Homo sapiens: one gene and its partner. The protein of the gene in region 1 purifies or fractionates together with the protein of each later gene. This does not show direct contact. Each region holds a gene or a part of one and is shown in the gene's direction. Other genes may lie near its edges.

Region 1 (3,354 bases):
TTCCATGCTACACAACTTACAGTACTAAACATACACTTAAAATGTTTTTGTTTTATCTTGTTTGCTCTTGTTTTTAAGGATTGCCATTATGAGCAGATTTTTTGTTTGTTTGTTTCAAAATAAATTTATTGAATTTTACTTCTCTCCTAAAGGTAATATTTACAGATTTTAAGGTTGTTAACGTTCTGGCAGTGTGTAACATGCCATTTGAAATCCGTTTGCCAGAATTCACAAAGAACAATAGACCTCATGCCAGGTAAGTCTTTGAAGCAATTTATCTTGAGAAATTACCAAATTTGAAATTACTAGTCAGGGTATAAATATTTATATTAATTGTGGCTTATTTTGTGTAGTTACGAACCTGAACTTCATCCTGCTGTGTGCTATCGGATAAAATCTCTAAGAGCTACATTACAGATTTTTTCAACAGGAAGTATCACAGTAACAGGTATTCTATGATATTGAAACCACACTTATCAATTATGGATTGAATGATACAAGATGCTCATACCAAGATAGAAATAATGTGTGATTTGTTCCTTTCAGTCACTTCTGCCCTTTAGAGGAACCAGTCTCCTGACTTTTAACACTAGATGCATTTTGCCTACTTTTGTACTATTTATAAATGTTACACTTACTATTTTGTGTCTTTTTTCACTCAGCATTATCTTAGTGAGTTTCATCTATATTATATTCTATGTAGCTGTATGTAGATCATTCGTTCTTATTGGGCATTTGAGTAGTTTCCAGTTGGAGCTTTAAAAATATTCTGGTAGGCCAGGTGCATTGGTTCATGCCTGTAAGCCCAGCACTTGGAAGGCTGAGGCGGGCTTATCACAAGGTCAAGAGATCAAGACCATCCTGGCCAACATGGTGAAACCCCGTCTCTACTAAAAATACAAAATATTAGCTGGGCGTGGTGGTGAACGCCTGTAGTCCCAGCTATTCGGGAGGCTAAGGCAAGAGAATCATTTGAACCCAGGAGGCGGAGGTTGCAGCGAGCTGAGATCGCACCACTGCACTCCAGACTGGCAACAGAGTGAGACTCTGTCTAAAAAAAAAAAAAAAAAAAAAATATATATATATATATATATATATATATATATATATATATACACACATATATTTTCTGGTATATGTATCCATAGTATGATTTTTTTTTTGTAAATTCATGATATCTTACATTTAAAATTCTCATGAGAAACTCATAAATTTCACAGAGGTTTTACATAAGCAAAATATTAAATATAATTGGTACCTGTTTGTTATGTTTGTCTTGCTATATCTTTTAATCTTTATTTGGAGAAAGGGTGGTTTCAGAAAACTAGGCATTCATGTCAGAGAGTAGCATTAGCATGCTGTGTGACATTTTAATGGTACTATGATTATAAATTGTACAGAGGCATTGCTTGGGAGTCAGGCCCAACCTTAGGCAAAAAAGAATTAAAGAAAATGTCTTTAATGTCCTTGAGCTTTGTTTTTTCTTTCTTCAATCCACAGAGGAAAATAATTTAGTCTCTCAACAAATAAACTTTAGTTTTGACTCATCCCATGGGTTTTTCCATCTTCCTTGGGGACTTTCAAAACGTATTCCCAAGATCCCACCTGCATCTTAAATATGGGATGATAGGAGACGAGTCTGTTTGTTCCCTTCTTTCAGCTCTCTGTTTCTACACTTTGGAGCATGGATGTCTGAGAAGCCACAAAGCCTATTGAACAATCTCTACTAAGTATATAATAAAACAATGCATATGTAAAACTCTGTATTTACTGAGTTACTAGATATTAAACAAAACAATAACAAACTGAAGACAATTCACCTGGTTAAGCAGTATGCATTATTTACTTAGATCAGGAATAGCCTATGAAATGTTACTGAATTGGTTCCCATGAACAAAGCATAGCAAGGTGGGGGTAAAGTGAGTCAGGAAGGACCTGACCAAGATAGGATGTGTGGTTAGGACTTTCAGAGAGTTTACAGTGGGTGGATTTGTTAGTTTCCTGGGTCTTTCAAAAGAGGTTAAGTGTGTATTGGTGAAGCCATTTTTATTCAAAATTTTATGAGAATAGTTTTCATTGTCCTTTTTTATGTTTCTTTTTAGCGATTTAAATGAAAGATTACATTTTTATAAAGTTGTTCAAGAATTAGCATAATGCATGGTCACCTCGTAGCCTTGTGCTTTTTTTGTTTTCTATTGACTTGTATACGCTCTGAGGGTGAAATGACCAGATTGGTAATAAATATGTGGATACCCAGTGGTGGTAAATCTGTGGGGATTTTTAAACCAGCATTCTGGTTTCCCAACATTTTGGTAGCAGCTTTGTTTCACTCTGCTGTGTTCCTCCATATCCCTGAGCCTCTGTTGTAGCCTAACCAGAAGCCAGATGATAGTGACTTAAAGGATAGCTGTTATTTAGTCCCATTTGTTACTCCTTCCTTTCATGTACATATTATATTACAGTGCTTTTTATATTAGTCCATGATAGTTTGTATGCCCTAAAACAAAGTGAATAACCTCATTTTGTGTTTCATATGTCCTTTAATTGCCCAGAACAAAATCTGTATTACTTTTACTTATTATGGCTATGTGTATAATTATATGTCTAGTTTTCTTTTTTTTAACAGTTAACTTGATATTCTATACCACTTGAATATTTTTAATTCTGGAAAATCAGTTTTTCCTAGTGCTCCCTTTTCCAACTCTTCTCACTCCTTCCTCCATTGTGTTTATTACAGGGCCCAATGTAAAGGCTGTTGCTACTGCTGTGGAACAGATTTACCCATTTGTGTTTGAAAGCAGGAAAGAAATTTTATAATTCACCACTTAATTGGTTAGAATCTCTAACTGAGCACCTTTTAAACCTGCTGCACATTGGACTCAAAAGGAAAACTGGACCAACAATAATTGAGGAAATAGACTCTTTTATTCATTCACGGCTACAGTGTAAGCTCCAGTCCCTTTGGATTTTATTCCAAACCTTGCTGTAATATAAAAGGAAGTTTACAAGACATGATATTGCTGCTTTTACAAAAGGACATTCTATTTATTTTCGCAGTAATTCTCATGTCCCCATAAGCAGAGCTGTCACAGTGTGCACTACCTTAGATTGTTTTATTGTCGTCATTGTTATTTTTTTCCATTTTGAGCTAATGTGTTTTATTTGTGAATAGTCTTTTACATTTTTGTATGCTGAATATGGGCACCAAAGAACCTGTAAAAGTTATCTTTTTCAATTGAATGTGCACAAATAAAAGTTTGGAAAAGATCTCTCTTCATTCTATAACTTTTATTCCCCATTTTCTATTTTAACAAAAATTGTATTCATACTTCTTTTTTTTAAAATCTATGCAAG
Region 2 (4,128 bases), on another chromosome or scaffold:
CATTATACATTTATTAGAAATGAACAAAAATTAACAAATGACAATGCTAAGTGTTAGAATGGATGTGGAGAGGTGAGAACTTTTATACACTGCTGTTAGGTATGTAAAATGGTACAACTACTTTGGAGAACAATTTAGTAATAGCAAGTGTAGTTGAAAAAGCATATATTGTAAAATCTAGTAATTCCACTCCTAGATGTATACCCTGGAGAATGTGTCCTACATATGCTCAAGGAATCATATACATTATTTATAAGAGGAACAATTTGGGAACAATTTAAATGAACAAACATAGGAACATAGATAAATTGTAGCATAACCATACTGTAGAACACTATAGAGCTATAAAAATAGAATTGAATGCATCAACATAGTTGAATATCATAAACATAAATTTTATCCAGAAAACATTCTGGCTAAGAGTACATACAGTAAGGTCGGGTTTGGTGGCTCTTGCCTGTAATCTCAGCACTTTGGGAGGCCAAAGTGGGAGGATTGCTTGAGGCCAGGAGGAGTTTAAGACCAGCTTGGCTAACATAGTGAGATCCCATCTCTTAAAAAAAAGGAAGGGGGAAAAAAAAAACGAGTACACACAGTAAGATGCCTTTTATACAAAATTGTAAAGCATGACAATGCTATAGATTATTTGGAGAAGCATACATATGCAGTTCATGTATAAAGAGATTTACAGAGGCTGGGTGCAGTGGCTCACGCCTGTAATCCCAGCACTTTCGGAGACAGAGACGGGCTGACCATCTGAGGTCAGGAGTTTAAGACTAGCCTGGCCAATATGGTGAAATCTTGTCTCCACTAAAAATACAAAAAATTAGCCAGGCATGGTGGCTCATGCCTGTAATCCCAGCTACTGTGGAGGCTGAGGCAGGAATCTCTTGAACTCCTGAGGTGGAGGTTTCAGTGAGCCGAGATTGTGCCACTGCACGCCAGCCTGGGGCGACAGAGCAAGACTTTGTCTCAAAAACCAGCAAACAGGCTGGGCGCGGTGGCTTACGCCTGTAATCCCAGCACTTTGGGAGGCCGAGGCAGGCGGTTCACGAGGTCAGGAGATCGAGAGGCTAACATGGTGAAACCCCGTCTCTACTGAAAATACAAAAAAAAAAAAATTAGCCAGGCGTGGTGGCGAGCGCCTGTAGTCCCAGCTACTCAGGAGGCTGAGGCAGGAGAATGGCGTGAACCCAGAAGGCAGAGCTTGCAGTGAGCCAAGATCGCGCCACTGCACTCCAGCCTGGGCGACGTTGCGAGACTCCGTCTCAAAAAAAAAAAAAAAAAAAAGTTTTGCGGGTTTTTCCCCCCGCCCCTTTGCCCCCTCCCCCCGCCTTTATTCAGCTTCCGGTAGACGCTGGTAGGGTAAGGGAGCTAAGTAGATCACTTCCGGGCGACTGTTGTTTTATTTCCGGTTTATGCGACCCGGCTGCGATTTGCTGCTGAGGGCAGCAGCTACCGTCACTGCCGCCATCATGTCAGACTCGGACAGCGAGGAAGATTCATCTGGAGGTGGCCCATTTACTTTAGCGGGTATCCTTTTCGGCAACATCAGTGGAGCGGGGCAGCTGGAGGGGGAAAGCGTCTTGGATGATGAGTGTAAGAAGCACTTGGCAGGCTTGGGGGCTTTGGGGCTGGGCAGCCTAATCACTGAACTCACGGCAAATGAAGAATTGACTGGGACTGGCGGTGCCTTGGTAAATGATGAAGGGTGGATTAGGAGTACAGAAGATGCTGTAGACTATTCAGACATCAATGAGGTGGCAGAAGATGAAAGCCAAAGACACCAGCAGACGATGGGGAGCTTGCAGCCCCTTTACCACTCGGATTATGATGAAGATGACTATGATGCTGATTGTGAAGACATTGATTGCAAGTTGATGCCTCCTCCACCTCCACCCCCGGGACCAATGAAGAAGGATAAGGACCAAGATGCTATTACCTGTGTGTCTGAAAGTGGAGAAGACATCATCTTGCCCTCCATCATTGCCCCTTCCTTTTTGGCCTCAGAGAAAGTGGATTTCAGTAGTTACTCTGATTCAGAATCTGAGATGGGACCTCAGGAAGCAACACAGGCAGAATCTGAGGATGGAAAGCTGACCCTTCCATTGGCTGGGATTATGCAGCATGATGCCACCAAGCTGTTGCCAAGTGTCACCGAACTTTTTCCAGAATTTCGACCTGGAAAAGTGTTACGCTTCCTACATCTTTTTGGACCAGGGAAGAATGTCCCATCTGTTTGGCGGAGTGCTCGGAGAAAGAGGAAGAAGCATCGTGAGCTGATACAGGAAGAGCAGATCCAGGAGGTGGAATGCTCAGTAGAATCAGAAGTCAGCCAGAAGTCTTTGTGGAACTATGACTATGCTCCACCACCACCCCCAGAGCAGTGTCTCGCTGATGATGAAATCACGATGATGGTTCCTGTGGAGTCCAAATTTTCCCAATCAACTGGAGATGTAGATAAAGTGACAGATACCAAACCAAGAGTGGCTGAGTGGCGTTATGGGCCTGCCCGACTGTGGTATGATATGCTGGGTGTCTCCGAAGATGGCAGTGGGTTTGACTATGGCTTCAAACTGAGAAAGACACAACATGAACCTGTGATAAAATCTAGAATGATGGAGGAATTTAGGAAACTTGAGGAAAGCAATGGCACTGATCTTCTGGCTGACGAAAACTTCCTGATGGTGACACAGCTGCATTGGGAGGATTCTATCATCTGGGATGGGGAGGATATCAAACACAAAGGGACAAAACCTCAGGGTGCAAGCCTGGCAGGCTGGCTTCCTTCTATTAAGACTAGGAATGTAATGGCTTACAATGTTCAGCAAGGTTTTGCACCCACTCTGGATGATGACAAACCTTGGTACTCCATTTTTCCCATTGACAATGAGGATCTGGTGTATGGACGCTGGGAGGACAATATCATTTGGGATGCTCAGGCCATGCCCCGGCTGTTGGAACCTCCTGTTTTGGCACTTGATCCCAATGATGAGAACCTCATTTTGGAAATTCCTGATGAGAAGGAAGAGGCCACCTCTAACTCCCCCTCCAAGGAGAGTAAGAAGGAATCATCTCTGAAGAAGAGTCGAATTCTCTTGGGCAAAACAGGTGTCATCAGGGAGGAACCACAGCAGAACATGTCTCAGCCAGAAGTGAAAGATCCATGGAATCTCTCCAATGATGAGTATTATTTCCCCAAGCAACAGGGTCTTCGGGGCACCTTTGGAGGGAATATTATCCAGCATTCAATTCCTGCTATGGAATTATGGCAGCCCTTCTTTCCCACCCACATGGGGCCCATCAAAATCCGGCAGTTCCATCGCCCACCTCTGAAAAAGTACTCATTTGGTGCACTCTCTCAGCCAGGTCCCCATTCAGTCCAACCTTTGCTAAAGCACATCAAAAAAAAGGCCAAGATGAGAGAACAAGAGAGGCAAGCCTCAGGTGGTGGAGAGTTGTTTTTTATGCGCACACCTCAGGATCTCACAGGCAAAGATGGAGATCTTATTCTTGCAGAATATAGTGAGGAAAATGGACCCTTAATGATGCAGGTTGGCATGGCAACCAAGATAAAGAACTATTATAAACGGAAACCTGGCAAAGATCCTGGAGCACCAGATTGTAAATATGGGGAAACTGTTTACTGCCATACATCTCCTTTCTTGGGCTCTCTCCATCCTGGCCAATTACTGCAGGCACTTGAGAACAACCTTTTTCGTGCTCCAGTGTATCTTCATAAGATGCCAGAAACTGATTTTCTGATCATTCGGACAAGACAGGGTTACTATATTCGGGAATTAGTGGATATTTTTGTGGTTGGCCAGCAGTGTCCCTTGTTTGAAGTTCCTGGGCCTAACTCCAGAAGGGCCAATATGCATATTCGAGACTTTCTACAGGTTTTTATTTACCGCCTTTTCTGGAAGAGTAAAGATCGGCCACGGAGGATACGAATGGAAGATATAAAAAAAGCCTTTCCTTCCCATTCAGAAAGCAGCATCCGGAAGAGGCTAAAGCTCTGCGCTGACTTCAAACGCACAGGGATGGATTCAAACTGGTGGGTGCTTAAGTCTGATTTTCGTTTACCAACGGAAGAAGAGATCAGAGCTAAGGTGTCACCAGAGCAGT

The links. Proteins that work in one complex are often made in the same cells at the same time.
Region 2: the proteins of TBPL1 (region 1) and TAF1L purify together in Homo sapiens (affinity purification with mass spectrometry, with the first as the bait; one large-scale study listed by BioGRID). This does not show direct contact.

Annotation. Positions count from the first base shown.
Region 1 is NC_000006.12:133,984,224-133,987,577, forward strand, and holds part of TBPL1 (TATA box-binding protein-like 1), read left to right. Parts: intron 1-152; coding exon 153-256; intron 257-353; coding exon 354-448; intron 449-2,737; coding exon 2,738-2,817; 3' UTR 2,818-3,354. UniProt on the Homo sapiens protein: Part of a specialized transcription system that mediates the transcription of most ribosomal proteins through the 5'-TCT-3' motif which is a core promoter element at these genes. Seems to also mediate the transcription of NF1. Does not bind the TATA box.
Region 2 is NC_000009.12:32,632,870-32,636,997, reverse strand, and holds the start of TAF1L (transcription initiation factor TFIID subunit 1-like), read left to right. Parts: upstream 1-1,328; 5' UTR 1,329-1,418; coding exon 1,419-4,128. UniProt on the Homo sapiens protein: May act as a functional substitute for TAF1/TAFII250 during male meiosis, when sex chromosomes are transcriptionally silenced.